7 linked regions of the Homo sapiens genome follow. The protein of the gene in region 5 interacts with the protein of the main gene of each other region in a pairwise test. Each region holds a gene or a part of one and is shown on either strand. Other genes may lie near its edges. The genes, in order: UBA52, MSRB2, KLHL20, WWP2, SNCA, ZSCAN1 and KLF15.

What was found.
Region 1: the proteins of SNCA (region 5) and UBA52 interact in binary tests that used the Homo sapiens proteins (3 or more experiments, as listed by UniProt).
Region 2: the proteins of SNCA (region 5) and MSRB2 interact in binary tests that used the Homo sapiens proteins (3 or more experiments, as listed by UniProt).
Region 3: the proteins of SNCA (region 5) and KLHL20 interact in binary tests that used the Homo sapiens proteins (3 or more experiments, as listed by UniProt).
Region 4: the proteins of SNCA (region 5) and WWP2 interact in binary tests that used the Homo sapiens proteins (3 or more experiments, as listed by UniProt).
Region 6: the proteins of SNCA (region 5) and ZSCAN1 interact in binary tests that used the Homo sapiens proteins (3 or more experiments, as listed by UniProt).
Region 7: the proteins of SNCA (region 5) and KLF15 interact in binary tests that used the Homo sapiens proteins (3 or more experiments, as listed by UniProt).

The regions. Positions count from the first base shown.
Region 1 is NC_000019.10:18,570,453-18,575,294, forward strand, and holds the start of UBA52 (ubiquitin-ribosomal protein eL40 fusion protein isoform 1 precursor), read left to right. Parts: upstream 1-1,404; 5' UTR 1,405-1,457; exon of another isoform or gene 1,458-2,155; intron 2,156-2,387; exon of another isoform or gene 2,388-2,495; coding exon of another isoform or gene 2,496-2,508; intron 2,509-2,840; coding exon of another isoform or gene 2,841-2,848; coding exon 2,849-2,951; intron 2,952-3,209; coding exon 3,210-3,296; intron 3,297-4,417; coding exon 4,418-4,520; coding exon of another isoform or gene 4,521-4,604; coding exon 4,605-4,698; 3' UTR 4,699-4,842.
Region 2 is NC_000010.11:23,115,472-23,119,825, forward strand, and holds part of MSRB2 (methionine-R-sulfoxide reductase B2, mitochondrial precursor), read left to right. Parts: intron 1-3,574; coding exon of another isoform or gene 3,575-3,704; exon of another isoform or gene 3,705-3,832; coding exon 3,833-3,980; intron 3,981-4,354. UniProt on the Homo sapiens protein: Methionine-sulfoxide reductase that specifically reduces methionine (R)-sulfoxide back to methionine.
Region 3 is NC_000001.11:173,731,807-173,736,160, forward strand, and holds part of KLHL20 (kelch-like protein 20), read left to right. Parts: intron 1-1,906; coding exon 1,907-2,480; intron 2,481-4,354. UniProt on the Homo sapiens protein: Substrate-specific adapter of a BCR (BTB-CUL3-RBX1) E3 ubiquitin-protein ligase complex involved in interferon response and anterograde Golgi to endosome transport.
Region 4 is NC_000016.10:69,768,194-69,772,547, reverse strand, and holds part of WWP2 (NEDD4-like E3 ubiquitin-protein ligase WWP2), read right to left. Parts: intron 1-4,354. UniProt on the Homo sapiens protein: E3 ubiquitin-protein ligase which accepts ubiquitin from an E2 ubiquitin-conjugating enzyme in the form of a thioester and then directly transfers the ubiquitin to targeted substrates.
Region 5 is NC_000004.12:89,728,679-89,733,032, reverse strand, and holds part of SNCA (alpha-synuclein), read left to right. Parts: intron 1-3,755; coding exon 3,756-3,839; intron 3,840-4,354. UniProt on the Homo sapiens protein: Neuronal protein that plays several roles in synaptic activity such as regulation of synaptic vesicle trafficking and subsequent neurotransmitter release.
Region 6 is NC_000019.10:58,050,352-58,055,312, forward strand, and holds the end of ZSCAN1 (zinc finger and SCAN domain-containing protein 1), read left to right. Parts: intron 1-2,138; coding exon 2,139-2,277; intron 2,278-3,077; coding exon 3,078-3,700; 3' UTR 3,701-4,280; downstream 4,281-4,961. UniProt on the Homo sapiens protein: May be involved in transcriptional regulation.
Region 7 is NC_000003.12:126,344,138-126,347,628, reverse strand, and holds part of KLF15 (Krueppel-like factor 15), read left to right. Parts: intron 1-3,491. UniProt on the Homo sapiens protein: Transcriptional regulator that binds to the GA element of the CLCNKA promoter. Binds to the KCNIP2 promoter and regulates KCNIP2 circadian expression in the heart. Is a repressor of CCN2 expression, involved in the control of cardiac fibrosis.

The sequences.
Region 1 (4,842 bases), on a different chromosome or scaffold from region 5:
TGACCTTCCAAAGTGCTGGGATTACAAGTGTGAACCACTGCACCCGCCGTGGCACTTTTTTTTTTTTTTTTTTTTTTTGAGATGGAGTCTCACTCTGTCACCCAGGCTGGGTGCAGTGGCGTGAACTCAGCTCACTGCAACCTCCACCTCCCGGATTCAAGCGATTCTCCTGCCTCAGCCTCCTGAGTAGCTGGGATTACAGGCACCCGCCACCACACCTGAAAAATTTTTGTAATTTTTTTTTTCTTTTTTGAGACGGAGTTTTGCTCTTGTTGCCCAGGCTGTAGTGCAATGGCACTCTCTCGGCTAATTGCAACCTCTGCCTCCCGGGTTCAAGCGATTCTCCTGCCTCAGCCTCCTGAGTAGCTGGGATTACAGGCATGCGCCACCACGCCCAGCTAATTTTGTATTTTTAGTAGAGATGCGGTTTCTCCATGTTGGTCAGGCTCGTCTCGAACTCCCGACCTCAGGTGATCCGCACATCTCGGCCTCCCAAAGTGCAGGCGTGAGTCACCGGACCCAGGTCCCGCCCTGGCACTTTTTAACCACCCACAAATCTGGATCCTACACTGAAAAGAGACACTGCAGTGGCTCACGTCTGTAATCCCAGCACTTTGGGAGGCCAAGGCGGGCGGATCACCTGAGGTCGCGAGTTTGAGACCAGCCTGACCAACATGGAGAAACCCCGTCTCTACTAAAAATACAAAAGTGGCCAGGCATGGTGTCGCACACTTGTAATCGCAGCTACTCGGGAGGCTGAGGCAGGAGAATTGCTTGAACCCAGGAGGCGGAGGTTGCGGTGAGCCGAGATCGCGCCATTGCACTACAGCCTGGGCAACGAGAGCGAAACTCCGTCTCAAAAAAAAAAAAAAAAAAAATCCTGAGTCCCGCTTGACACCTTTTGTCAGGCACCACCACCTTTCTGGGCGAATGCGGTAGTACCGTCTGCTCTCCCTGCTGCTGTCCTGAAATCCATTCAGGCACAGCGGCCGAGAGCTTTATAATAACCGATTCCAGGTGTTAGGTGCTTTCCCAGCCCCGACTCCTGCGTCCTGGACCCGCAGTCCTCTGCTTAATACCTTTGCTTTATTAGAAAACATTCTCCTCTACTCCGTTCAGCTATTCGCTGAGGGCCCGCCAACCGCCAGCGGTTGTCAGTGGCCTAGAGGCAGCGGACGCAAACACGGGGAGAGGTGCAATCGTCTCAAGTGACTCGGCGGGCGGGGCCCACAACCGGAAGCGGGTGGGCGACCTTCACCCACGTGCGCTGCGGCTTCGTTCGCCAGCATCCAAGATGGCGGCAGGGCGGGGCCCAAGGCGCGGCGCGAATTGTGACGCAGGCGTCCGGCGTGCTCCGTGCGCAAGCGCTTTCGGCGGCGATTAGGTGGTTTCCGGTTCCGCTATCTTCTTTTTCTTCAGCGAGGCGGCCGAGCTGGTTGGTGGCGGCGGTCGTGCGGGTTCGCGCCGGGCCGAGAGCGGGTTGGGGGCTGCGGGAGGCTGCAGGGGCCTGGGCGGCAGAAGAGGCGGCCCTGAGCTGGCTCATGCGGGCCAGTCTCGGCAGGGTGGCTGGGCAGGGCTCGCGAGGCCACGGCTCGGAGCCCAGACCGGGGCCCAGGAGGCGAGCGCCGTTTTGGAGAGGAGCCTGCCTGCTCTGCCTGCCAGCGTGACCCCACGAGGCCTCGGGCGGGAAGAGGTCCTCGGGGCAGATCCGAGTTAATGAGAGAGGGGTATTGAGCGTGTAGCGTTAACTCTGCCAGTCACTGCGTCAGTCGCTTTGGAAATACTAAATTTCTCGAGCTGAGTCTTCATACCTGGCTCCATTACTACGTCTGTAAGGAGGAGCTGGTGGTAGTGTCTGCTTTTTAGACTTTTCTTTAGACTATTTGTATTTTTTTCAGATGGAGTCTTGCTCTGTCGCCTAAGCTGGAGTTCAGTGGTGCGGTCTCGGCTCACTGCAATCTCCACCTCCCGGGCTCGAGCGATTCTTCTGCCTCAGCCTCCCGAGTAGCTGGGATTATAGGCGCCTGCCACCACGCCCAGTTGATTTTTGTAGTTTTAGTAGAGACGGAGTTTCACCATGTTAGCCAGGCTCATCTTGAACTCTTGACCTCAAATGATCCGTCTGCCTCGGCCTTCCAAAGTGCTGGGATTACAGGCATGAGCCCCTGCGCCCGGTCGATTCTTTGTCTTTTTAAGTCAACTTTTATATGTGAACAATGCTTGGCAGGTGGTTGGTAGATACTAAGTGATGTTCGTGGTTTGGGGTCAAGGCAAGAAGTGGGGTCTGGAGAGTTTTGGTGTAATTGAGAAGGAAGCTAAGAGTGTTGGGTGCTCCAGCTTGGAGTTAGAGAGGAGAGAGGCTGCGACAGGAAGGCATGTGTGTTGTAGGGGATGGCTTCCCATCCAGGCTGGCAGCAGGAGCAGCCTGTGCAGATCAGGACCTGGCTGCCGTGGAAGAGGGTGGGACCGCCTTCAGGGAAGATGGATCTAGCAAGATGATGCCAAAGGGTACTTATTCCATCAGGAGATACTGACGAGTCCTTCCGCCGCTAAACCTAAGGAGAATAACCACAGTCTGTGTTCCTGAAGAGCACCCGTGCGGTCAGGAGGGTGGAGGACATGTGGTCTTTAGTTCCAGGACATGTTTAGACTACAGGCCAGGGTGTGTGAGAAGCCTAGCAGGGCCAGGCTTGGAGGAGTGAAAGGAAGACAGGTACTGGGGCAGGACCAGTTGGACTTGGTGCAGGCAAAGGGATAGCAACTGTGGTGTAGGCACCTGAGCTTGTGCTACTCAGGCATGCATTGCTCACCAGTCTATCCTGCCTCCCTTCCTCCTGCAGACGCAAACATGCAGATCTTTGTGAAGACCCTCACTGGCAAAACCATCACCCTTGAGGTCGAGCCCAGTGACACCATTGAGAATGTCAAAGCCAAAATTCAAGACAAGGAGGGTGAGTAGGGCTGGGTGTGGGGGCTCTGGCTGTGAACTGGGAGTCCCTCTCTGCCCAGGGGAGTCTCAGTCCTGTGTGGGTTGTGCTGACTTTAGATCTGTTTTGCCCTTGCTTCTCCATGTGATCTGAAGAACGTTTGTTATCTTCTACCTCAGTTGGCCTTTTGAGAAACTGGGGGTAGTGCTGGAGCTCCCCTGCAGAGGACACTGCCAGTAATATGGTCCGCAGAGCCTCTAACTGAGCCTCCCTCCCCCTCAGGTATCCCACCTGACCAGCAGCGTCTGATATTTGCCGGCAAACAGCTGGAGGATGGCCGCACTCTCTCAGACTACAACATCCAGAAAGGTACCGGGGTTGGGGTTGCTGGGCAGGGACCCAAGATCCCCAGGTCCTAGGAAAGGAGCATTGATGGCCTCAGGGGTTGGGGAGCAGTTCAAATGACTTGTGTTTTGTTTAAAATAATGGGACTGGGCACAGTGGCTCATGCCTGTAATCCCGGCACTTTGGGAGGCTTAGGCGGGTGGATCACCTGAGGTCAGGAGTTCAAGACCAGCCTGGACAACGTGGTGAAATCCCGTTTCTATTAAAAATACAAAAATCAGCTGGGTGCAGTGGCTCAGGCCTGTAATCCCAGCACTTCGGGAGGCTGAGGCGGGCAGATCACAAGGTCAAGAGATTGAGATCATCATGACCAACATGGTGAAATCCCATCTCTACTAAAAATACAAAAATTAGCTAGGCATGGTGGTGCGTGCCTGTAGTCCCAGCTACTCAGGAGGCTGAGGAAGGAGAATTGCTTGAACTCGGGAGACAAAAAAAAAAAGTCATAATGTGAATTTTTTTATCACTGCAATAAGGAAATTAGTGTCACTTGTGGGAGCGACAAGAATTCAGTGTCCTTTTTTTGTGAGACAGAGTCTTACTCTGTCACCCAGGCTGGAGTGCAGTGACGCGATCTCACTGTGACCTCCGTCTCCCGGGTTCAAGCGATTCCCCTGCCTCAGCCTCCCGAGTAGCTGGGATTACAGGCACCCGCCACCACGCCCAGCTAATTTTTTTTGTATTTTTAGTAGAGACAGGGTTTCACTACGTTGGCCAGGCTGGTCTCTTAAAGTGCTAGGATTACAGGCGTGAGCCATGGTGCCCCGCCTAGACTTCAGTGTCTGACCTTGCCTGAACCACTTAGAGGTCGGCTTCCATGTTAGAAACCCAGATGGATGCCTCAGTTGGCATGTGTCAGTCTCAGACTCCCCCCAGGGCTCGTGGTCAGTGCTGAGATGGAGATTTCCTGGGGCAGGCTGGCTGGGACAGTGTATCTTCCACACGTAGAACACTCGGGGGATCCCGACTTGGTGTCCCCATCACACTTGAGAAAGCAGCAGACTATAGGCCCTGGAGGGTCCTGCCCCTGTGACTGAGGAGCCAGGGCTGGGCTCAGTCGCCGTCCTTCTGGCTGTCTCCTGCAGAGTCCACCCTGCACCTGGTGTTGCGCCTGCGAGGTGGCATTATTGAGCCTTCTCTCCGCCAGCTTGCCCAGAAATACAACTGCGACAAGATGATCTGCCGCAAGTATGTGTGCTCCGATGCTTGGGGGGCTGTGGGGGCTGCCGGAGTCGGGGTATGCCCTCACCCACCCCTCCTGTCTCTGTGCAGGTGCTATGCTCGCCTTCACCCTCGTGCTGTCAACTGCCGCAAGAAGAAGTGTGGTCACACCAACAACCTGCGTCCCAAGAAGAAGGTCAAATAAGGTGGTTCTTTCCTTGAAGGGCAGCCTCCTGCCCAGGCCCCGTGGCCCTGGAGCCTCAATAAAGTGTCCCTTTCATTGACTGGAGCAGCAATTGGTGTCCTCATGGCTGATCTGTCCAGGGAGGTGGCTGAAGAGTGGGCATCT
Region 2 (4,354 bases), on a different chromosome or scaffold from region 5:
AAAGGAATAGAAATTCTTCTAAGAGGTTAGGGTTGTCAGTTATCACCAAGTGCCTGTGCTGTTGGTTTGGGACCTGTAGAACTTCCAGAAATCAAGGAAAACCAAAGCAAATAAAACGAAACAAAGTAAAAATCCCTTAGAGTATATGATTCAGAATGGTTTTAGTTCTTCAAGGGCAAACCTTACAATCTGCTAATCACTTAAATATGTATATTGGAATTTCTGATTGGCTTTAATATTTTGGTTCCCAGTCTTAACTTATATATGTTAGGCCTCTCATATTACTTGGTAAAAATCTCCCGATTCTGCTAATTGCATCAATAAAGGTTTATTGTTTCCCATAAAATGCTTTAATGAGTTTTTATTAGCCTTAGTTTCATTTATTTAAAAAATTTTATTGTATTCATAATTCTCAATCAAAATACCTTTAATGATCACTAGTTGATATATAATGTTGAGGATGGAAAGACTGGGATTAAAAGATACTTAATGATGTTTTTCCCTGAGCAGAGTGGCCAGATGAATGTTTTTGAACCCCTGGAGGAGGGTTGCAAAGAATCCGACCTGAATATGCAGACATTTCTAGTTGGACCCACAACTGCTCACATTCCATAGATTTCTGGTATTAATAATAAAAAAATATTAAAAAATAGCTACCAACTCAAGTGCCATGTGTCAGGTACTATGCTAAGCACACACACAGAAAGTGAGGTGATAATGCCATTGCTATTGTTAGCTTAAAACAATCATACAATCTATAAATTTAGAAAAGGAGACTTTATTTCTTCTAAAGGGTTACAGCCTTCAAGGTGGCCATCCTACAGGCTGGGAAGCGAGCTCCCAGCCAAGAGCAGATGCAGGCACTTGGAAGGGGGAGCAGCTGGGGTAGGAGCTTTATGCTGAGAGGGTTGGCTAAATATACCTATTTAACAGATCACAGAAGGGGCTATGAAAATTTGTGAAGATGGTCCTGACATACACATATTGAACAAACATGCATGTAACATATGACCTATGTTTATTTGGGGGTAGAAACTTAACATTTAAATGTATTATAATTAGATCCTATACATCAAAAGGTCTTTCAGGATATGAAGGCCCACAAGTGCACAGCCTCTGTAAACCATCCAGAACCACTTCATGGTCTTTTAATCAGGAGAAAGTTACTAAAATCAGTCTCTTGTGCAATCAAAGCTGTAGTTACGGCTGGTGGAACAGAGGGTCTCAGCTAGTCAGTGTCTGATGGTAGATGAGCTGCAATTGCTTCAACACTGCTTATCTCAAGGCCAGTGATTGTTTAGCTGCTAGAGAAGAAGAAAACCCCTGTGGCAGTTAGAGTTGATTCTTTAAGTGTAGGGGTGCATGACTTCACCCTCGCCTGGCATGGCCTTAGGTCCTGTTTATAATTTGGTATATTATTGCCACAAAGAGGCTGTTCTGCCAGTCTTATGATCTCTATTTAAACATTAATGCTGGTCATTTGTTGTGTCTAAACCACAAAAGGGAGAGGGTATAATGAGGTGTGTCTGACCTCCTGTCCCATCATGACCGGAAACTCGATTTAAAGGTTTTTCTGGAGTCCTCTTGGCCAAGAAGGGCTCTATTCAGTCAGTGGGTGGCTTAGAACTTTATTTTTAGTTTATACTTATCTATAGACTAGGATGCTGAGGCTTCAAAAAATTAAATGACTTGCCAAGGTGATACAGATGTAACAGACAGATCCCAGATTCACACACAAATCTTTCAGAAGTCAAAGCCCTTCCTCTAATGGCTATACCTGTGGTTCTTAAAGCCTGGTCTGAGGACCCCAGAGATTCCTGGGGGGGACCTTTCTAGGGGCTTTTCCAACCACACTTGAGACCACTTGAGGCCACATCCTCTTATACTCCAATCAAAACAACATAGCAACAGACTGAATTCAGAGGCACATATGAAGATTCAGTTGTCTTTTTTTTAAGCCGGATGTTAAAGAGCCTTGCAAAATTGTAAAACAGTGCAACTCTTCTCATGAAATGTTTGTTTCATTTTGAAAAGTATAATTATTTGCCTTAAATATATGTTATGTTAACATATAATAAATTTATTTCAGGTTGAGCATCTCTACTCTGAAAATTCGAAATCTGAAATGCACCCAAATCTGAAACTTTTTTATTTTTTGAGACAGAGTCTCGCTCTGTTGACTGATCTCCACTCACTGCAACCACTGCTTCCTGGGGTCAAGTTATTCTCCTGCCTCAGCCTCCCAAGTAGCTAGGACTACAGGCATGCACCACCATGCCCAGCTAGTTTTTCTATTTTTAGTAGAGAGGGGGTTTCACCATGTTGGCCAGGCTGGTCTCGAACTCCTGAGCTCAAGTGATCCACCCGCTTCCACCTCCTAAAAAGCTGGGATTATAGGCGTGGGCCACCACGCCAGCAAAATTCGAAACTTTTTGAGAACCAACATGCTAGTCAAAGGAAATGCTCACTGGAGTATTGCAGATTAAGGATGCTTAGCCATCAAGTAAAATGCAAAATTCAAAAAGATCTGAAATCCGAAACACTTCTGGTCCTAAGCATTTCAGATAAGGGGCACTCAACCTATATTAAAAAAAAATTAATGCACACATATTTTTAAATTCTCATTTATAATGTATAATTTGTTAAATGTTGACATACGTAACTCACAGACAAAAGCTCTCAGCAATCCCTATTAATTTTGGGGACACAGAGGGGACATGAGGGGTGCCGAGACCAAAATGTTTGAGAATTGCTGCATTACACAATTGTTTCTGTGGGAGTTTGTGCTGCCAGCTAGGCTTCCTTCTGTGTTCATAGTCTAGGGATTTGATTCTTTGCTACTTTTTCTTCTTAGATTAGTTTTTTGTTTTTTTTTTTTTTTTTTTGGCTGGGTCTAACATTCAGTTCTTCTCTTTCTTCCTTAGATAGAGAGAGCCATTTCCTTGCCACAGCAATTTTTGAAGTCTATTTTCCCAGTGCCATTTAAGGGAGCTTATCCATGAGAGCACTTAGAGGGTGGGTCTTTGGTGAGTGGATTTGCCTGCTGTCCTTCTCCTTGTGCCAGCATCATGAGTCCCTGGGAGACTTCTGGAGGGTTAGGTTTCACTGCAGTGATTGATGCCAGGTACCCAGGCGTATTAATTAATACTAATCATCACCATCACAGCAAGCATTCAGGGAACTTACCATGTGCCCAGCACCGTGCTAAGCTTTATGTCACACTTCAGTTTCCCCTCAAATCCTCAAAACAGCCCTGTAGGGTAGATATTATTCCCATTTGCTAGGTGAGCAAACTGAGGCTTCAAGAGCTGTGGTTTCACACAGCTAAGAAGTGGCCAGAGGCAGCTTTTGAATCCCTGGTCAGGCGTCTGTGTTGAGATAACCTGAAATTCCTGTTGCCAAGCATGACTTTCTCATCAGACCTTACACTTCTGCGCTGCTCTAAGATGATGATGACTTCCTCCGAGCATTAGTATTTCGTTTTGATTTCTCCCCTTTTGACATTTTCAACACATGGGTTTGATCTGTGTTACCTAATATGCAACACAGTTCACAAAACACCATGTGTTTTTAGATCCTTGTTGGATATCCAGAAAGAAGTCTTTAGCATCAAAGGATCAAGAAGTCCTTCCACTTCGAGAGGCAATGGCTTCGATAGTGAAGGTGCAGTGAGGACGATTCCGGGGGGACTGACTGTCGAATAACTGGGCATGGGATCTGGCAGAGGAGAGTGGGAACAGATCCTGCTGCCTGGAACAACACATCGGGGCACCTCTTGGCATGTTAATGACAGTGTCATTAGCAGCTGTAGTATCGTTTATGTCTTCCACAGTTCTGAGAAAAAGTACTGCTCTGGCACTGGGTGGCCTTCGTTTTCCGAGGCTCATGGTACGTCTGGCTCTGATGAAAGCCACACAGGGATCCTGAGACGTCTGGATACCTCGTTAGGATCAGCTCGCACAGAGGTTGTCTGCAAGCAGGTGAGGTTTCTCATTTTGTTTTACTTTCCCTGATGCTGCCCCCAATGCCACAAAGAGCTCTCTTGTTCTTGGCAAATCTGGTGTCCTTTTATAGGGGTACTTTCTTTTGTCTTCAGAACACATGGGGTTTCTTTTTTGTTTTGCTTTGTTTTGTTTTGTTTTGTTTTGTTTTGAGACAGTCTCGCTCTGTTTTGCAGGCTGGAGTGCAGTGGCATGATCTCAGCTCACTGCAGCCTCCACCTCCTGAGTTCAAGTGCCTCAGCCTCCCGAGTAGTTGGGATTACAGGTGCCTGCCACCACACCCAGTGAATTTTTGTATTTTTAGTAGAGATGAGGTTTCGCCATGTTGGCCAGGCTGGTCTCAAACTCCTGAC
Region 3 (4,354 bases), on a different chromosome or scaffold from region 5:
ATACATATGTAACAAACCTGCACGTTGTGCACATGTACCCTAAAACTTAAAGTATAATTAAAAAAACATTTAAAAAATTAAAAATATAATAAAAATAAAAACCAATAACGGCTGGGCACAGTGGCTCATACCTGTAATCCCAGCACTTTGGGAGGCTGAGGCAGGCGGATCACGAGGTCAGGAGATCAAGACCATCCTGGCTAACTCGGTGAAACCCCGTCTCTACTAAAAATACGAAAAATTAGCCAGACATGGTGGCACATGCCTGTAGTCCCAGCTACTTGGGAGGCTGAGGCAGGAGAATCACTTGAACCCAGGAGGCGGAAGTTGCAGTGAGCCGAGATTGCGCCACTGCAGCCCAGCCTCCGTGACAGAGCCAGACTCTGTCTCAAAAAAAAAAAAAACCAGTGTGATGGCATGTGCCTTTAATCCCAGCTACTCAGGAGGACTGCTTGAGCCTAGGAGTTCAAGACCAGCGTGGGCAACTTAGTGAGACCCTCATCTCAAAAATTAAAAAAAATCAATAAGTAAAAAAACCCAGCAACAACAAATGGTAGAATAATCTGAAAAAGAGAGAGATTCTTTTCCTTCTCCCTTCTTGTACCTATTGTTCCTTTTGTCTTGGGATTTCAAAACTCAGGCCAGTGGCATTTAAGCTTTTTTGATATAACCTGCAGTTTACGAGGGGAAGCAGTGATGCGTATCTATACAAATTTGTGTGTGTACATACACACAATTGAACATGCTTAACTAAATGAAATGTATGCTGTTACTTTCTATTTCATTTTTTAATGCTTCTTATGAGGCACTGAATTTTACAACTAAACCTAGTCCCCATTTACAGCACTCTTACCATAGAAAAATGCAAACCTCCAAATAAACTTTTAGATTCAACTTTTAAATACTACTTATTTATAAATTGAAGAATGTCTGTTTATGAACTTATTCACTTATTTTATAATCATACCGAAACCTCAGTGATTCAGACCAATTTGACAGGAGCAATTCAACATATGTAGTACTTTTAAATGAAGCTTATCATATTTAATATCTCTAGATATGAAATTAGACCCAAATTAATCTAACAAAATCTTGACCTGGAGGCTCTTTGGAGTCCTGCTAAATCATCATTTAGCTTGCCATTTTCTTTACTATTTTAATTTTAATAAACTTTGAAGAAAAGATTTCTATATAAAGATAAACTTCAATCCAGACTTTTTTTTTTTTTTTTTTTTGAGACAGAGTCTCTGTCACCCAGACTGGAGTGCAGTGATGCAATCTCGGCTTACTGCAGCCTCTGCCTCCAGGGTTCAAGTGATTCTCATGCTTCAGCCACCCAAGCAGCTGGGATTACAGGCATGTGCCACCACACACGGCTAATTTTTCTGTAATTTTAGTAGAGACAGGGTTTTGCCACATTCACCAGGCTGGTTTCGAACTCCTGGCCTCAAGTGATAAGCTTACCTCAGTCTCCCAGGGATTACAGACATGAGCCACCACACCAGGCCGTCAGTCCAAACTTTTTATATTGTCTTTAATTTGAAATTTAACTATTAATTGAAGCGTGTTAACTTGGGCTTAATTTTTAAAATGGATAAGCATAACCACCTGATCTAAAAGTTTTATTGCTATAGTAGCTCAATTTAAATGGTTTATGTAGACCAGGCATGTTGGCTTATGCCTACAATCCCAGCACTTTGGGAGGTGGAGGCAACAGGATCACTTGAGCCCAAGAGTTTGAGACCAATCTGGGCAACACAGTGAGACATCATCTCTACAAAAAATTTAAAAAAAAAATCACCAAGCTAATTACATTTCCTTATCGCTTGAATTACAAACATTTAAGGGGAGAAAAGAGCTTATAATAATACTGCCATCTTCTCTCTCTCCCCCATCATTCCTATAGGTGTACCAACATTCGACCAGGAGAGACTGGAATGGATGTAACAAGCCGCTGCACCCTTGGAGACCCCAACAAACTGCCAGAAGGGGTTCCCCAACCTGCCCGCATGCCCTATATCTCAGACAAGCACCCTCGACAAACCTTGGAAGTGATTAACCTTCTGAGAAAGCACCGGGAGCTATGTGATGTGGTGCTAGTTGTGGGCGCCAAGAAGATATATGCCCATCGAGTCATTTTGTCAGCCTGTAGTCCCTACTTCCGAGCTATGTTTACAGGAGAATTGGCAGAGAGCCGTCAGACAGAAGTAGTGATCCGAGACATTGACGAGAGGGCTATGGAATTACTGATTGACTTTGCGTATACCTCCCAGATAACAGTAGAAGAGGGCAATGTTCAGACTCTTCTGCCAGCTGCTTGCCTCCTCCAGCTGGCAGAAATACAGGAAGCCTGCTGTGAATTCTTAAAGAGACAATTAGATCCTTCTAACTGCCTGGGCATTCGGGCTTTTGCTGACACACATTCATGTCGTGAGTTGCTAAGGATAGCAGACAAGTTCACCCAACATAACTTTCAAGAGGTGAGTTGCACTTGGTGTTCCAATGCACCCATTTGTTGGAGAGCAATATGGGTTCACATTCTGCTAAATAACACTTGCCTGGGTATTTCCTGCTGATTCTAACTCATAATAGCAAATAAATAAGTTATTATAAATCCTAAACCTGGCTTTTATTTTAGAGGGCAATTTTGTGTTCTACCAGCAAGTTAAGATTTAGGGATTTATTCTCCCTAACTGTATTCATAAAAGTATTTAAAAAAAAATTTTTAAAAAGGTTTATTTATAAGCCAAAATAGAGTAATTCACAAGAGGATCTATGCCTGATAGGATACCTGGTATCATGATTTATATAAGATATTTCCTTCCTGATTATGTGGATTATTCAGAATAAATTATAGATTATAGGTTGTTTGGTAAACTAATAATCTGAAAAGATGAGTTTAGATGTTATCAAAATAATTTTCATTAAACCTATCTTTCCCTTATTTATTTAACAAATATTTGTAAAGCTACTATGTTTCAGCCACTGTGCTTGGGAGCATAGGGTACAATAGTGAACAAGAAATCTAGAGTCTCTGTATTCATGGAGTTTATAATCTAGCAGGGAAGATAATCATTAAATGCTTAATTATACAAATAATTAACTACAGTTAATGGGTGTTACAAAGAAGCAGTCCTGGATGATTTAAGAGTGTATTACAGAGAAATTTAACTTTGGTGCTGGAACAACTTGTGCAAAATCCCAAGACATTAAAAAGCATCACTAGTTTGAAGACCTGAAAAAAACCCAGTGAGACCCAGAGACCAAGGGGGGTAGAGGATGTTACATAGTGATTACACAGAAAGAAGAGGGCTAAATCACACTGAGGTTGATAGACTATGTTAAGAATTTGAGATTGGCCTGGTGCAGTGGCACATGCCTGTGATCCCAGCACTTTGGGAGGCTGAGGCGGGCAGATTGCATGAGCTCAGGAGTTCAACACTAGCCTGGGCAACATGGCGAAACCCTGTCTCTACAAAAAATACAAAAATTAGTCGGGCATGGTGGCGTGCACCCTTAGTCCCAGCTACTTAGGAGGCTGAGGTGGGAGGATGGCTTGAGCCCAGGAGGTAGAGGTTGCAGTGAGCCAAGATCGTGCCACTGCACTCCAGCCTGGGTGAGAGAGCCAGACCAGACCCTATCTCAAAAAAAAAAAAAAAGAATTTGAGATTGATCCTAAGAGTGCTAGAAAACCATTAAAGGGTTTTAAGCAAAGACAAAACATGGTCTGTTTTACAACTTTTTAAAAAATCATATTTTTATTTATTTTGCAGTAAAGTGGTCAGCTCAGGACCATAGTTTTTTTCCCCCTAATAGTTTTTGGAGAACAGGTGGTGTTTGATTATATGAATAAGTTCTTCATTGATGATTTCTGAGATTTTGGTGCATCCACCACCCGAGCAGTGTACACCGTACCCAATGTGTAGTCTTTTATCTCTCACCCACCTCCCACACTTCCCCCTGAATCCCCAAAGTCCATTGTGTCATTCTTACGACTTTGCATCCTCATAGCTTAGCTCCCACTTATAAGTGAGAACATATCATTTTTGGTTTTCCATTCCTGAGTTACATCACTTAGAATAATGGTCTCCAACCAACTCCATCCAGATTGCTGCAAATGCCATTCTATCTTTTTTTTTTTTTTTTTTTTTTGAGATGGAGTCTCACTTGCTCTGTTGCCCACGCTGGAGTGCAACGGGGCTCAATCTCAGCTCACTGCAACTTCTGCCTCCTGGGTTCAAGTGATTCTCCTGCCTCAGCCTCCCAAGTAGCTGGGACTATAGGTACATGCCACCATGTCCAGCTAATTTTTGTATTTTTATTAGAGATGGGGTTTCACCATGTTGGCCAGGCT
Region 4 (4,354 bases), on a different chromosome or scaffold from region 5:
GCGTAGCCCTGCTCTGCAGGAGCAGTCACGGAGCTGTAACTCTGCTGCCTCAATAAAGCTGTTTTCTTCTACTACCAGCTTGCCCTTGAATTCTTTCCAGGGCAAAGCCAAGAACCTACCCAGACTAACCCCCAGTTTTGGGGCTCACGTGCCCTGCATCAGTAGTACAGGTACCTCCGAAAGTAAGGGCAGAAGTGGGGCTAAAAACAGGAGGACTGGCAAAAGCCTATCTTGGGAATGATTAGAGTCCCAGAGTCCCCTCCCCACCCAGTTCAACCAAGCAGTTGCCCCTTCCTAATCCCAAGCAGACTTTTAGTCCAGCACTTTGGGAGGCCGAGGCAGGCGGATCACCCAAGTTCGGGAGTTCGAGACCAGCCTGACCAACATGATGAAACCCTGTCTTTACTAAAAATACAAAATTAGCCAGGTGTAGTGGTGCGTGCCTGTAATCCCAGCTACTTGGGATAGGCCGAGGCAGGAGAATAGCTTGAACCTGGGAGACAGGTCATGGTGAGCTAAGATCACACCATTACACTCCAGCCTGGGCAACAAGAGCAAGACTCTGTCTCAAAAAAAAAAAAAAAAAAAAAAAAAAGACTAAAAAGACTTTTAGTTTCTCAACAGGTGAAACCAAACTCAAGACTTCAGGCATAGTTGACAATAGGGATAAGGCACCATATTGACCCAGCGAGACAGTGAAAGTCTACATTATAAACTGAAAAGGTCAATTTCCCCCACCCAACTCACCTTCCCGCACTTGGGTCCTAGCATACATGTGTACTTCACACCTAAATGTCAACAAACATTGCAGAAGTCCTTGGCCAAAAAGCCAGATATAAAAACAAACAGAGAGAAAAAGAGAATTGTTTTTCAGCAATTGACAAGCTGATCCTAAAGTAAGGAAATGCAAGGAACCCAGAATCGCCAAAACAATCTTGAAAAAGAACAAAGTTGGATGACTAACACTTTCCAATTTTAAAACTTACTACAAAGCTACAGTCCTTCAGGCTCTGTGCCTCATGCCTATAATCCCAGCACTTTAGGAGGCCCAGGCGGGTGGATCACTTGAGGTCAGGATTTCGAGACCAGCCTGGCCAACATGGGGAAACCCCGTCTCTACTAAAAATACAAAAATTAGCCGGGCATGGTGGCAGGCACCTGTAATCCCAGCTACTCAGGAGCTGAGGCAAGAGAATAGCTTGAACCCGGGAGGCGGAGGTTGCAGTGAGCCAAGATAGCACACTGCACTCCAGCCTGGGAGACACAGCAAGATTTCATCTCAAAAAGAAAAATAATAATTATTACAGAACTTTTGACAGGAGAAAACAACTACACATCAGATTAAGCTAGTGGCAGCTCCTGCAATACCTGAAGCACCTGATCACTTTTATCACCCTACCTCAGCAACAACCTTTCAGACCTGTCAATCTTCTGGAGGCTAATAAGCTGAACCACTCATTTGCCTTTGAGTGATCCAGAGCAAGTTACTTACTGAGAGGATGGAGAGGAAAAAGCAAACTCAGTTTCTTCCTGCTATACTCTCACAACACAGAATACTACCTTTTTTTTTTTTTTTTAATAGAGACAGGATTTCACTATGCTGCCCGGGTTGATCTCAAACTCCTGGGCTCAAGCGATCCTCCTACCTCTGCCTCCCAAAGTGCTGGGATTACAGGTGTGAGCCACCACGCCCAGCCCCACAGAATACTTCTGACACCAGATGTGTGGGAGCCCCACATACCAAGTAAGCAATCAATTCTGCAGCTGGCAGACACCAGCTGGGTGTCCTCTAATTCAGTTCCTACACTATCCACCTGGAAATAGCATCAGATCCCACAGGTTTAGTTCCCCAAGACTGCCCCTGACTTGCGACATCAATTGCAAGCTCCAGGTTGTTTTACCCGTGCTTCTGACCAACCGGCTATAAATCGAGGTTCTTAGGATTGATAAATTTGCTAGAGCAACTCACAGGACTCAAGGAAACACTTTATTTGCATTTACTGATTTATTATAAAGGATATTATGAAGGATACAAATGAAGAGACGTAGGGCGAGGCATGTGAGAAGGGGCACAGAGCCTCCAAGCCCTCTCTGAGGGTGCCATCCTCCAAGAACCTCCACGTGTGCAGCCATCCAGAAGCTCCCCAAACCCAGTCCTTCAGGGTTTTTATGGAAGCTTCATTACGCAGGCATGATCAATTAAGTCACTGCCACTGCAGATCAAGTCAACTTTCAGTCCCTCTCCCTGTCCCAGAGGCTGGGTGTGGGACTAAAAGTGCCAACCCTCTAACTACAAGGCTGGTTTCCCTGGCCACTGGCCCCCAAATCCTGAGACTATCCAGGAGTCCCCAACCAAAGGTCAATTATTAGCACACAAAAAGACACTGACCAGGTGTGGTGGCTCACACCTGTAATCTCAGCACTTTGGGAGGCCAAGGCAGACAGATCACCTGAGCTCAGGAGTTCGAGACCAGCCTGGCCAACACGGCGAAATCCCATCTCTACTAAAAATACAAAAATTAGCTGGGTATGACGGCATGTGCCTGTAGCCCCAGCTACTTGGGAGGCTGAGGCACGGGAATCGCTTAGAGGCTGCAGCGAGCCGAGATTATGCCATTGCACTCTAGCCTGGGCGACACAGCGAGATTCTATCTCAAAAAAAAAAAAAAAAAAGACACTGATCACTTGGGAGATTTCAATGATTTTAGGAGTTATAGGCCAGGAAATGGGAGGAAGACTAAATATATATTTCACAAAATCATACCTACCCTCTCTAAATCTCAGTTTTCTCATCTGTGAAATGAACCCAATAATAGTACTTACTTTATAAGATTACTGTACTGACTACATGAATTCAGGTAAAGCAGAGGACACACAGTAAGAGCTCTTCAAATATCAACTACAAACAAAACCACTTCTCGATACTGAAATTCTTGGCTCTGGCATTACAAGCACCTCAATTCCTAAAATTCTTGACCCAGCTCTGAGTCAAGAAACCAGTGAACACCGATCTTGAGATGAAAAGACCTGTGTAGAAGGAGCCAGGGAAAAGCAGAAATTACACACCAGTATCAATATTTTATTTCTTGTTTTAAAAAATTTTTTTCAATATAATCCATGGGTTCACAAAGATTTTATTTCTAATTAACCAGCTGTAGAAACAGGCAGAGCTTATTTCTAACTAGAGATAAACCTTGCACCCACTTCTATTTTTTTTTTTTTTTTTTTTTTGAGATGGAGTCTTGCTCTGTCACCCAGGCTGGAGTGAGTGGTGCAATCTCGGCTCACTGCAAACCTCCACCTCCCGGGTTCAAGCAATTCTCTTGCCTCAGCCTTCCGAGTAGCGGGGATTACAGGTGCCTGTCACCACGCCTGACTAGTTTTTTGTATTTTTAGTAGAGATGGGTTTCATCACGTTAGCCAGGATGGTCTCGATCTCCTGACCTCATGATCCACCCGCCTTGGCCTCCCAAAGTGCTGGGATTACAGGCGTGAGCCACTGCGCCCAGCCTGCACTCATTTCTTGAAAGATATGCAAGGAAAAGCTCTGTCCAAAAGATTCTCCTGTTCTTCACAGGCTCATGCTACTCCAACACTAATGCTTCTTTCTTGGCCTCCTTCCTCTGTCCAGCATTGAGTTACTACCTTCCATTCTCCAAAGGCCCATATTGAAAAACAATCAAACAGAATCAACTTTGCCAAATGACATCCTTACAAAGACTAAGCACGGAAAAAGAGAAAACGGGAGGGAGCAGGGAGGTACACTATTGGAAGCCCCGTGGAATTACAGGCTAAGAATAAAAGAGGCTGACTGGAAAGCAGATCTGAAGACAAAACAAGAAGCAAAAGGCATGGGTGACTTGAGGAAGAGGACGGGCCCTAGGTCAGGACTGCCATGTCTTGGTACTTGTTATTTTTTATTTATTTAATTATTTTTGAGAAGGAGTTTCGCTCTTGTTGCCCAGGCTAGAGGGCAGTGATGCAATCTCGGCTCACTGCAACCTCCGCCTCCTGGGTTCAAGCGATTCTCCTGCCTCAGGCTCCCAAGTAGCTGGGATTACAGGTGTCTGCCACCACGCCTAGCTAATTTTTTGTATTTTTAGTAGAGACGGGGTTTCTCCATGTTGGCCAGGCTGGTCTTAAACTCCTGACTTCAGGTGATCTACCCACCTCGGCCTCCTAAAGTGCTGGGATTATAGGTGTGAGCCACCATGCCTGGCTGGTATTTTCCTAATAGTTATTATTAGTAGTAATGATTTAAATCACTGAATATTTGCTATAAACTGCGGTGGGGTGAAAAACAGGGAACTGCAACCTTCTAAAAAGATTTTGGTTAGAATCTAACCTGTCCCAT
Region 5 (4,354 bases):
GAAAAAGTTTAATTTATAAACTAGGCACAGTAAGAGATTAACAACAATAACTAATAACAAAAGAGAACAATTATAATAATATACTGTAATAAAAGTTATGTGGGTATGGTCTCGCTTTCTCTTTCCCTCTCTCTCTGTCTCTAAATATCTTAGTATTTTGGGGTTGCAATTGGTGGTGGGCAACTGAAACCATGGAAAACAAAACCACGGATAAAAGGAGACTACTGTATATACTTTTTAAAACTGATGAAATATTAAACTCATGTTTCTTCTATATCCCACCCATTTCCCCCACCCAAACCTAGATAGATATCTTATTTGATCTGTAAACATTTAATTAATTTGTAAAAGTTAAGAACTTTTTGAAGTAAAACTGCAATATATCATCACACCTAAAGAAATAAACAATAATTCTTAAATATCAAGTCAGTGTTCAAATTTCCCCAACTACCTCATATGTGTTTTCCATTTGCTTATGTAGGGTTCCCAATGAGAATGAAATAAAGTTCTTAGGTTGCAATTGGCTAATGCTCTCTCACTTCTACTTTAAGCGGCAGGTTCCCACTAACTTCTTTTTAGTTGCAATTTACTTATTGAAATTAGACGTATTCTTTGTCTTGTGTAGTTTCTCACAGTGCAAAATTTGCTGATTGTAGCCACTGTTGTAAGCAATGAACATGTTTTTCACCACCTTATATTTGCTGTAAGTTGTCAGTGATAGTTAAATGTTAATCAAATTCAAATTCGGATCACGTAGGGCTTTTCTTTTTTTGTTTTCTTTTTCTATTTATATATTTATTTATTTATTTTGAGACGGAGTCTCACTCCGTCACCAGGCTGGAGTGCAATGGTGTGATCTGGGCTCACTGCAATCTCCACCTCCCGGGTTCAAGTGATTCCCCTGGCTCAGTCTCCCGAGTAGCTGGGACTATAGGAGAACCACCACGCCCGGCTAACTTTTTGTATTTTAGTAGAGATGGGGTTTCACCATGTTGGCCAGGATGCTATAGATCTCCTGACCTCACCGATCATGTAGGACTTCAATTGTCGAACAAACGAACCTTTAATAGCAGTTACACCATTAGGATGACCTGATCCAACATCGAGGTCGTAAACCCTATTGTCGATTTGGACTCTAGAATAGGATTGTGCTGTCATCCCTAGTGTAGCTTGTTCCCACTTGATGAAGTTATTGGATCAGTGAACAATAGCCCACTTAAACTAGTACAGTCTTAGTTTAAGATGGTGATGTGTATGTACTTCCATCAGAGGGCACATAATACAGTAAATCCTCACTTAACTTCATCAATAGTTTCTGGAAACTGTGACTTGAAGCAAAACAACATATAACAAAACCAGTTTTACCATTGGCTAATTGATATAAGCAAGAATTAAGTCCTATGGCAAATTTCTGGACACAAAAACACCATCAAACTCCTAAATAAAGATAAATCACTTCTGACATTAAACATTGAAATTAATGTGAGCTATATATACGTTTAAGAAAGATTAATACAAACAAGTCAAATAACTTACCTAATTATTTCGGTGGAGGCCGCAGGTGGTTGGAGCCTATCCTGGCAGCTCAGGGAGCAATATGGGAACCCACCCCGGACAGGACGCTGTTCCATTACTGCAGGGTGCTCTTGTACACACCCACTCACCCAGGCTGGAACCATGCAGACACACACACTCACCTAACCTACACATCTGTGTACATCCTTCAAAGTTCAGCCAAATAACATATAAACAAATCCAGTAATATCCATCAGTCTTAGTTCCGTCATAACAACTCCTTTTTGATCATCAAACAACAAACAGGGTAGGTCTGCCATATTTACTTGTCTGGTCCATATCAAAATTTTCTAACAAATTATATTAGAAAATCAAATCTCTGTCAGTTTCAAAATCATGGAAAAAAATTTGCCTTATTTCCCTTATACTTGGATATCCTAACAGTAATCTAAATATTAATGAGAAAGTTAATGATGTCGTTTCCTTCTCCCTGTTGTAAAGAAGGTTTTGCTGTCCCGTTTGATCACTAAGACTAATTGACACTCAGAAAAAGCATAGGAAACTTCTCAGCATCACAAAAGCTCTGTCATCTAGAGAAGCTAGGACTTGAGCTCAAGTCCTGTGACATGGAAGGCCTTGTGCCTAGCCATCCTGCAGCAGAGGCGTATCTACCAAGAAGTGAAACACTACGAAAACAGTATGTTTACTCCACATTTTAAAGTGAGGTAGTTTGGGGTGGTTCATATTTTATTTAATTTATATATTATTTGGATTTTTTTTAGTTTATAAAAAGGGCATTGGCAAGGGCAGAATGATCTGTAAGCTTCTCTGCCCACCTACCATAAGCATGATCTTTAGTGTGACCTTTTCTTACTGTTAGCCATTTTCTTATACTTCTGCGTCCCTGTCAGTCACTTCCATGTGAAGACATGGGGAAGCTTTTTTACATCAGACATGTTGTTGAAAATCAGCCGCGTTGGCTGAGGGATTATTTGATCTCTTTCTCCAAGTCCCTTTAGGCTCACATTGCCTCTCTGTTCTTTGAATTTTCACTTACCTTTATCTTCTTATAATTACTTTGCTGAAATAAATGCAAAGCAACAAAAGGTATTTAGTGAAGAATACCAACAAAGCCATGACCATTTCAGGCTGAGTTTTGTAGTATTCTTTGTCTAGGAAGAGATACCTAGAAAAATTTTCTGACCATGTATTTGATTATTTTCCTTCAATATGTATAGTCTCAGTCTTCAAATTTCAGAAAAGAATTTGTTTCTTCATTGTCATTTAAAATTAATGTGTTAAATATGTATGCTTTTACATTATAAGTGGTTATAAAAGTTAAACACTTAGAAAAAAAGTCAAAATAACATACATACTATCCAACAAAATAACTTTCATATTTTATTGTGTTTTCTTCCAAACTTTTTACCTTTGCGTCTGAATTCTGTGTAGGTTGTATCTATAATATAGACAACACTTTATAGCCTGCTAAATATTATACCATAAATAGGTAGTTGTTACATAATTCTCAGGTAATAGTAATACAGGTCTTTATCATAATCTACTGAGTAGTTGAATGATAATTTTTTTTAAGACAAGGTCTCCCTCTGTCACCCAGGCTAGAATGCAGTGGCATGCACATGGCTCACTGTAGCCTCTACCTCCCAGGCTCAAGTGATCCTCCTGCCTCAGCCTCCCAAGTGGCTGGGACTGTAGGCATGTGCCACCATGCCCAGCTATTTATTTGTATTTTTAGTAGAGATGGGGTTTCATTGTAACAGCCCAGGCTGGTCTTGAACTCCTGGACTCAAATGATCCACCTGCCTCAGCCTCCCAAAGTGCTGAAATCACAGGAGTGAACCACTGCACCCAGCAATAATTTTTTAACTCTTCATTATTCATTGAACATTTAGTTAACAATTCTAAAAATTTTGTTTCCTGCTGTCATTGATCTTGTGAAAAATATCTTTGGACTATAGCTGTGGATTATTTCCTAAATAGTAAATTACTTGAGCAAAAAGTTTACATACTTTGAGGGTTGATAACCCATGTTGCCGCAATGTTTCCCCGGAGGCATTGTGGAGTTTAGAATGCCAGTAGTAATATTAAGGTGTGCCATTTTCAAGATCCGTGGCCAACATCCCTATATGTAAGATTTTTCCAAAACATGGTTCTGATTTTTAAAAGTGAAAAATGCTACTTCATCATGTTCTTTTTGTGCTTCTTACTTTAAATATTAGAATGAAGAAGGAGCCCCACAGGAAGGAATTCTGGAAGATATGCCTGTGGATCCTGACAATGAGGCTTATGAAATGCCTTCTGAGGTAGGAGTCCAAGCTGAATCTTTCTAACAAGACAGTACCAAAAACCTGTCATTGTCACATTTCTCTTTCATTAGTGCTTAGTGAGAATCATTTGCTCTCTACATGCTCATTACGTGGACAACTTGCAAGTTAAGAATAGTTTTTACATTTTTAAAGGGTCCTTAAAAAAAAAGAGGAGGAGGAAGATGAAGAAGAGGAAGAAAGGATGTAAAAGAAATCATATGTAGTCCACATAGCTTAATATACTTACTACTTGACCCTTTACAGGAAAAGTTTACTAACCCCTGCATTAGAGAATATATTTTTAGAAACTTTACATTCTAAAATAAATTTCTAAATGGAAAGTTAGGGAAATCAATGGAATGCCAAAGGAAGGTTATTATTTTTTGCCATACATGTCCAATGGGATGACGCATAGTAAAATAAAAGTTACCCACACAAGTTATAGAATAAAAAGATAAATGCATGATTTGCGACAATTGATATATTCCAGTATAATGTTTTAAACAACACAA
Region 6 (4,961 bases), on a different chromosome or scaffold from region 5:
CTTGAACCCAGCGGGTGGAGGTTGCAGTAAGCCAAGATTGCGCCACTGCACTCCAGCCTGGGCGAAAGAGTGAGACCCTGTCTCTAAATAAATAAATAAAATAGAGCTATTAAGATAATTCCTCAACAACAGTAAGTTGCCAGGCATTCATATTTCCTCCTTTATTCTTGTTTCATTTTGTTTTGTTTGAGACGGCGTCTCGCTCTGTCGCCAGGCTGCAGTGCAGTGGTGCAATCTCAGCTCACTGCAACCTCCGCCTCCTGGGTTCAAACGATTCTCCTGCCTCAGCCTCCCGAGTAGCTGGGACTACAGGTGCACGCCACCACACTCAGCTAATTTTTGTATTTTTAGTAGAGATGGGGTTTCACCATGTTGGCCTAGATGGTCTCGATATCCTGACCTCTTCATCCTCCCGCTTCTGCCTCCCAAAGTGCTGGGATTACAGGCGTGAGCCACCACGCCTGGCCCCTTATTCTTGTTTTCTTTTTCTTGGTTGCTTGGTTTGCATCAGGACTCTCCCAGGGTGTGACATGCATCTCCCTCCCGCCTCCAATCTCCCCACCTGTCATCCCTGAAACAATAAACCTGGGTCCACCTCTGGAAGGATAAGAACCCAGATCTGTGGCCAGTGGCTCACCGGGGCTATGGGGATGTGTTTGCATTTGAAGGTACAGATAGGGCCCCGGGAATGTCTTGGTTTCTGTGCCTGACCCAAGTGTGTCGATAGCTCCTCTGATGCCCCCTGAGAGTCAGGGGAACTAAGCATGCCCCTCTCTCCACACATACATGCCACCCACTCTTCTCTCCACGCAGCCCCTCTGCTGCCCTTGATTAGTCACAGACGCCAAGGTGGGTGAAGTAGGGAAGAGCCTGACTGTCCACAATGGCCCCCAGTAGCCAGGTACCAGGAAGAGGCGTAAAAGGGAGTCCCGCCTTTACTCCTATAGATGGTGGCTCCTCTGGTTACGATTTCAGAATTCAACATGTTTTACAATCAAAACTAGCATTTGATAAGAAATAAAAATCAATAACCCAGCCAAACACACCATCCACATACTCCCAACGTGAGAGCAGGAAGAATCTTGTGCCTTAACTCCCTTCCTGCCATCAGCTCCCTCCCTCCCTCCCTCCCTCCTCCGTCTCTAGCCCAGCAATCCCTCTACTCCAGTTTTGCCCAGCTATTGGGAATCTTGGACAGCTTCCTTAGGCCCCTGTGCATCCAGGTAGGGTTGGGGCAGCAGAAAGCGAAGACCCACTCAAGACAGACCTTGTCAGTGCGTGCTTGACTCCTGGTCTTTTCTGATGCTTTGTTTGACTCAACATACCTCCTCCAACAACCTGATTTGCATTGATAAGTGTCACTGTGTTTTCCTTTGACACGACTCCGTTGCAGTTTGCCGAGCCCTTGATGGTACCAGGCTCTGGGCACGTAGCACCCACATCCTCACTGGAAACCCAGAGAGCTAAAGCTCCTCATCCAGGGCCACACAACAAGCAGGGCTGGAGCCTGGACACCAAGCCAAGCCCCTCTGTTTCGAATTCTTGCTCTTCAACCACAGCTCAGTCTCCTCCCAGGAAGTGGTGATCCCCGCTTTGGGCGGGACACGGTTAGGTGCATCAGAGGTCATAGGTCGCAGGTGGGATGTGAAGTCTGTGAAGTCGCCCACTTCCTCTGGGCTTGTGGGCAAGGACAGTGCAGCCTTGGGGGACGGGAGTTAGGAGCCCCAGCTTGTAACAGTGACCCGAGCTGTGGCACAGGTCCCCTGGCTCCATCTAATGCTCTGTTGTCACTGTCCTGAAATGATCAACGATCTTTGAACAAGGGGATTTGCATTTCCATTTTGTACAGGGGCCCCTCGAATTCTGTCTCAGGTCCTGTTAAGAGCTCTTTAGGAGTGGTTATTTATTTTTTGTATAAGCAGAGTCTTGCTGTGTTGCCCAGGCTGGTCCCAAACTCCTGGCCTCAAGCAATCCTCCAGCATCAGCATCCCAAAGCACGGGAACAACAGGCGCGACACCGCGCACTGCCCTGGGACAGAGCCTTTGGGGATGACGCCCGTTCCTTGGTTGTTCGGTGGTGGTGGGGAGGATGGCTCCTGAGGGGCAGCTGCCGAACAGTCCTGTGCTTGCCATTCTAGGCGTCTGAGCTGATTCTGGATGCAGTGGCAGCAGCCCCAGCACTCCCCGAGGAAAGTGAGTGGCTGGAGACTACCCAGCTCCAGCAGAGTCTGCACACCAGGGCGGAGGCCGAAGCGCCCCGCGCCCCTGGCTTGCTGGGTGAGTCTGGCTCCTGTGTGGATTAAGGGTTGGAAATGGAGTTTGGGACTTCAACCCAAAGCCACAGACTTTGTTAATGGGTTGAGTTGGGTGCTTCGGTGGTGAACTCCACACTTCCCCCAGAAAGCATGCACACCTCCTGTGAGGACTGAGATCTGGGGCCCCTAGAACCACCATGTACATCGTTCACCCTACGAGAAGGGCCTCAGCCTCCGCACCTGAACGGCAGCCAAGGCAGACAGTCTGAGAGTGTTGGAGCACGGGGTTACCCAGAGGGCCAGCCAGGTAGGAACAAGGGCCAGTGCTGTGGGATCTGCTCCCAAAACATGTGCCTTTTTTTTTTTTTTTCGAGACAGAGTCTTGCTCTGTTGCCCAGGCTGGAGTGCAGTGGTGTGATCTTGGCTCATTGCAACCTCCGCCTCCTGGGTTCAAGCGATTCTCCTGCCTCACCCTCCTGAGTAGCTGGGATTACAGGCGCACACCACCACGCCCAGCTAATTTTTGTATTTTAGTAGAGACGGGGTTTCACCATGTTGGTCAGGCTGGTGTCTAACTCCTCACCTCATGATCCACCTTCCTCGGCCTCCCAAAGTGCTGGGATTACAGGCATGAGCCACTGCACCGGCCACATGTGCCCTTGTATCTTAAAGGACAGAACGGAGGACACAGGGGCCGTATTGAGCAGAGGAAGGGCCTGGACTTGGCTCAGTCACTGGGGTCCTCCGTGCCCCTGGGGAGCACAGGGAGATGCCAAGGCCATCCACTCACTACAGGTGACCCATCTCCCTCGCCCTCCACAGGGTCCCGGGCCCGCTTGCCTCTGAAGCCGAGTATCTGGGACGAGCCTGAGGACCTTCTCGCAGGGCCCTCCTCAGACCTGCGGGCAGAAGGGACTGTGATCTCGAGCCCCAAGGGTCCAAGTGCTCAGAGAATCAGTCCCCGAAGGAGAAACAGGAACACTGACCAGAGCGGCCGCCACCAGCCATCCCTCAAGCACACCAAAGGTGGTACCCAAGAGGCTGTTGCAGGCATCTCGGTAGTGCCGCGTGGGCCCCGAGGTGGGCGGCCCTTCCAGTGTGCCGACTGTGGGATGGTCTTCACCTGGGTCACCCACTTCATCGAGCACCAGAAGACCCATCGCGAGGAAGGGCCCTTTCCGTGCCCCGAGTGTGGCAAGGTCTTCCTGCACAACTCCGTCCTCACTGAGCATGGCAAGATCCACCTGCTGGAGCCACCGAGGAAGAAAGCCCCCCGGAGCAAGGGCCCCCGGGAGTCCGTCCCACCCAGGGATGGAGCCCAGGGCCCAGTGGCCCCTCGCAGCCCCAAAAGACCCTTCCAGTGTAGCGTCTGCGGGAAGGCCTTCCCCTGGATGGTCCACCTCATTGACCACCAGAAGCTCCACACGGCCCACGGCCACATGTGAATGGCCAGCCTCGGGCCTCGGCCACCCGGCCCTGAGTCCCTGGGGGGAGCTGATGGGCCCCAGAAGATGGGGGACATCCCCCAGCCCCACCAACCCCTGGCCACCTTGGGACTCCTCTTGAAGGACACAAGCTGTTTCTCGGAAGACCCTGGACACCTGCTCCGAAGCCAAGCACGGGATGGGGCTTCCCAGGGTCTCAGCTGAGAAGCAGCAGTTCCACAGCACAGCCTGGTCAGTCCTGCGCACTATAGTTTTGCAAGTGGCTTGAAGAGGAGTTTCATTCGCGTCCCATCTTTCAGAAGCCTTGTCCAGGTCTCCCTGTTAGCACCTGACTCAGCGGCAGCTTCTGCCGCTGGGTTTTCATTTCACTGTGGATATCCCTGAGGCCATGAGGGTGGGAGCCGGCCTGGGCAGCTCCAACTCCAGAGAAGGGTACAGCTGACCCCGGCTGCCCTCCTGCCAGCTTAGCCCCCTTGGAACCTAACAGATAAACAGGGTTTTGTTTTTTTCCTTTTTTGGGTAAAGTACATGCAACATAAAATTTACCATTTCAGTCATTAAAAATGAACAGTTCAGTGGCATTAAGCACATTCACAACACTGTGCAACTACCAGCACTCTCTAGCTCCAAAGATGTTTTCGTCTTGCCCAGAAAGAGAGCCCACAGTCCTCAGCACGCCTTCGCCATTCCTGCCCGCCCTGACAACCAGAATCTGCTTCCTGTCTCTGAGGATTTCAGGCGCAGTCTTTAGGCCTGACCAAAACTGACCTGCCTGTATTTTGTTTGACTTACAGAAGGATTTTTTTTTTAGATAGATGCCAACATTTGTTTAAACCATAAAAATCTGGCTTTCTGGTCTGCCAGGAAGGATCAGATGGTCTCCAAAGAGTGGGCCCGCCTCTCCTGCTAGGCTGGAGCAGAGTGTGGGCAGGCGGTGACGTCACAGCGGGGAGCCAGCCTCGGACTCGGCTTCTCACCCGTCCCCAACTCATTGTTGTCGGACACTCGTCCCCTTTCAAGCAAAAGCCTTAAAAGTTTTTGCCTTTTTCTTTTTCTCCTCCCGACTTCACTTGGAAACACAGTGTTGGGCTGACTGTGAATCCGCACAGGCAGAGACATTTTTCCAAGTCGCCTTCTAAATCAAAAGCCTTTGGACTTACCCACGTCACATCCGCCTGCTGCTGCTTCTCAACCAAGCTGCCCCCACTCTCGGCCTCTGTCCCCGATGGCCCTCTCGGGCTGTGCAGGTCCCACGGACCCA
Region 7 (3,491 bases), on a different chromosome or scaffold from region 5:
ATCCTTTGTTCCTTGCAGCAGAACGTCCTGTTCCAGAATGGCCAAGCCATTCCATCCAGAAAGAATCCCTTCTGCTGCAGTGAATATGAATATGAATAACTGTCATCAGCCTGTAGGGTGGGTACTTTTGTCGTCCACAGTGGATGTGGTGGGGGACAGAGAAGGGGAGTTCCAGGCTCCTCTTGAGCGTCAGAGCCAAGAGGTGGTAGGTGCAGGATTCAAACTTAGGGGTCTGGCTCCCAGCCTGCTCTCATGACCCCTCTGCATTGAGGCTTTTTCTGACCTCCTTCCCTCTGTAGGCAGAGGCCCCCAGTATGGTTGGGCAGGTTGTGAACTGCACAACTCTAGGGAGCACCATTTCCATTGCAGTTTCTGAGACTGGACTGTTTGCGGTGTTGTCTGGCGGATGAGGGTTAGTGTCTCAAGGAAGGGACGCCTTCATACAGAAGTGCTGTATGCACCAGCCCTGACATTATAGCTGCTCTAGAGAGACACTGGACCCCTGTGTACCCTCTGCCCTACAGCTCAGCACAAATCATAGTGCTGCCCTGTCTGCAGCAGGACCCACCAGGAACCAGGCCCAACACTCAACTCCATGCAGGTGATAAGAGCTCATCATTCTTGAATAATTGCCACGTGCTAAGCAGGGCTCTAAACCGTTACTGGTTGCCTTGTACAATCCTCACAGTCCTCAGGAATAGGTCTTTTGTTCTCCCTTTGTCTGGGTAGAGAAACTGAGGCTCAGGGAGCTTGGTGACTTTCCTAGTTTGCCTGGTTGGTAAGTGGCAGAGCTTACTGCCTACAAGGGCTGCATCTTACCCACCGGGTTCCCACATCCCCCACTGTAGTCCCCAGGGCTCTCTGTTGGCTGCTGTTTGGGAGAATGTGGCATGCAGGGGTGAGGCAGGGGGTCTTCTGAGGGCTCAGTTCCCAGGGAAGTTCCTCTCAGGTGCCAGGACCCTGTGGCAGCAGGGAGGGAATTCAGGTGAGGACAGCATGTTGTCCAGCTTGGTTCTATCTCATCTGCCTGTCCTTCCCAGGGTGTCACCATGACCAGAGATCTGTGTGGCCCCACGTCACCACCTGTGGCCTTTGAGATGAGTCTTGGAAGGTGGGCAGGAATGCCAGAGTCTTCATTGGATGAATGAAGAAATTGAGGCCCAGAAAGGACCATTCAGGGCACCCAGTGGGGTGGGAACTGTCAAGGCAGGAGCCTGAGACTCTGTCCCCTGGGCTGTGTGACTTGGCCTCTTTAAACCCTTGCCATGGTCTTGCCAGTCCAATGGGGCTGGCTCATCCTGGTTCCCTGGCCAGTGAGATGCTGGGTGACCCCAGGGCTGCAGCCTGGGAGGCGTGGCACTCTGTGTCTGCAGCTTTCTGCTTACCCCTGCCCTGGGCCAGCTCCTCTGCTCAGAAGCTGTGTGCCCAGCTGCAGCTGGGGGCAGGTGTCCTGCCCAGGAGCACAGGTGTCAGCTTTGACTGCCAGGGCACATTTATCCCATTTCCTCACTGGCACAGGGCCCTGTGACACACACACCCATCCAGGCCTGTACAGGAGGCTGGGGGGCTCTGCTGACTGGGAGTCCAGGTCATCTGCCATTGCCAGGGCAGGGGGCTGTGTCAAGACCTCTGCTCCAGCCTCAGGGGCCCTGTCTTGTCAGTGACCTGGACCAGGCCCTCAGCACCCTGAGCTTCAGTTTCCTCCTCTGACAGGCAGGGCAGTTGGGCTTCACCTAGTCTGGAGATGTGCTGAAAGCACTGCCCTGTGCCTGGTGCCACCACCACTCTGTGATGTGAGTCGGAGTTCCTGTCTCCTCCTGCAGGCCCTCCTGCCACCCCCTGTGCCTTGTCCAGAGCATGTTCTGCTGGGTCCTTCTGCTCTTCCACCCACAGGGTCAGGGCGCCAGGGCATCACCAGCCCTTACCAATTGCTGGGTGGGAACTGCTGCTCTGGGCACCGCCTCTCGCTGGGTGGCCCTGGTCCACAAAGGGGTGTTGGGCCTCGTGTCCCTGTGTGTGTGTGTGTGCGTGAGTACATGGGGGCATGAATTTGTGCCTGTGTGTGTGTGTGTGTGAGTATGTGTGGGCACATATTCGTCCGTGTATGTTTGTGTGCCTGTATGTGTGGGCATGTATTTGTCCGTGTGTGTGTGCGTGCATGCTTTGGGACTGCTCCTTGACAGTGTCTGCCCCCCTAGGGCTGCTTGCTGTGCCCACTCTTGCATTGAAATCCACCTCCTCAGCACCTACCATATACCAGGCATTGGGCTGGTCATGGGAAGACCACCGGGAACCAAGACAAACATGTCCTTTGTCATGGAGCTGACAGTCTAGTGGGACAGACTGACAGTCATCAAAAAGTTGAAGATAATTTAAAATCAAAACAACAGCAAGAATGAGGAGAGAGAGGTGTGTAATGCCACAGGAGCCTAGAATTGGATGCAGTCCTGGAGGGATTTCCTAAGGAAGTGACATTCGAGCTGAGCTCTAAGGAATGGGTAGGAGAGAGCAAGGAGGGGGAGGGAAGAACATTCTAGAAAGAGGGAACAGTATGTGCAAATGGCCTGTGGCAAGAAGGACCAAGGAAAGGTCAATGCAGGTGGAGCACAGAGCGGGATAGTGTGTCGTGGGAGGGGTAGGTGGGGTGGGAGGGACCTGCTGCCAAGCCAGGGGTGGAGAGGGCCTCAAATCCCTGAGGTTGGTGGCAAGCAGTCCAGGCCCTCGATGCAGCTTGGGCTCTTGACTGTCACATGAGTGCCTGCTCCCAGGCCAGCAGGGCCAAGAAAGCGAAATGTCGGGAGCCACCTGAACTCCCAGATACACTTTGCAGGGTCAATCTTTATTTGGGCCTGCCTTAGAGGGCCCAGCTTCCAGCACAGCTGGTTTCAGGAGTGGGTGGACTCAAGTCTGAGGACCTCTCTCCCTGTGCTGCTTCCTCCTCCCAGGCCTCCGTTTCCCCTCCGGATGGGCGGTCCTGTACAGGCCTTCACAGATGCCCCTGTGGAGTTCTGGTCCAGTGGGGTAGATGAGGCCAGGGTGGTGAGAGGCAGCCAGCATCAGGGCCTGAGCGACTGAGTGCACCTGTGGCCTCAGAGACCCCTGCACACTGGGTGGGCTGTGGGAGGGAAGCCCTGGTCCCTGGTAGCATTGGGGTCCTTTCCTGTTGGGAGCTTTTACCAGCTGCTCTGGCAGTTCCCAACAGAGAATGCCCACTGTGCCAGCATGAGCCTTTACTGTAGTTCTTTCCATCTTGGAGGGGTGGCAGGGGCAGCTTGGCACAGTGGCTCACGCCTTTAATCCCAGCACTTTGGGAAGCTGAAGTAGCCTGATCGCTTGAGCCCAGGAGTTTGACACCAGCCTGGGCAACATAGGGAGGCCTGGTCTCTAAAAAAAAATACAAAAACTATCTGGGTGTGGTGGGCACACCTGTAATCCTAGCTACTCTGGAGGCTAAGGAGGATTGATTGAGCCCGGGAGGCTGCAGTGAGCTG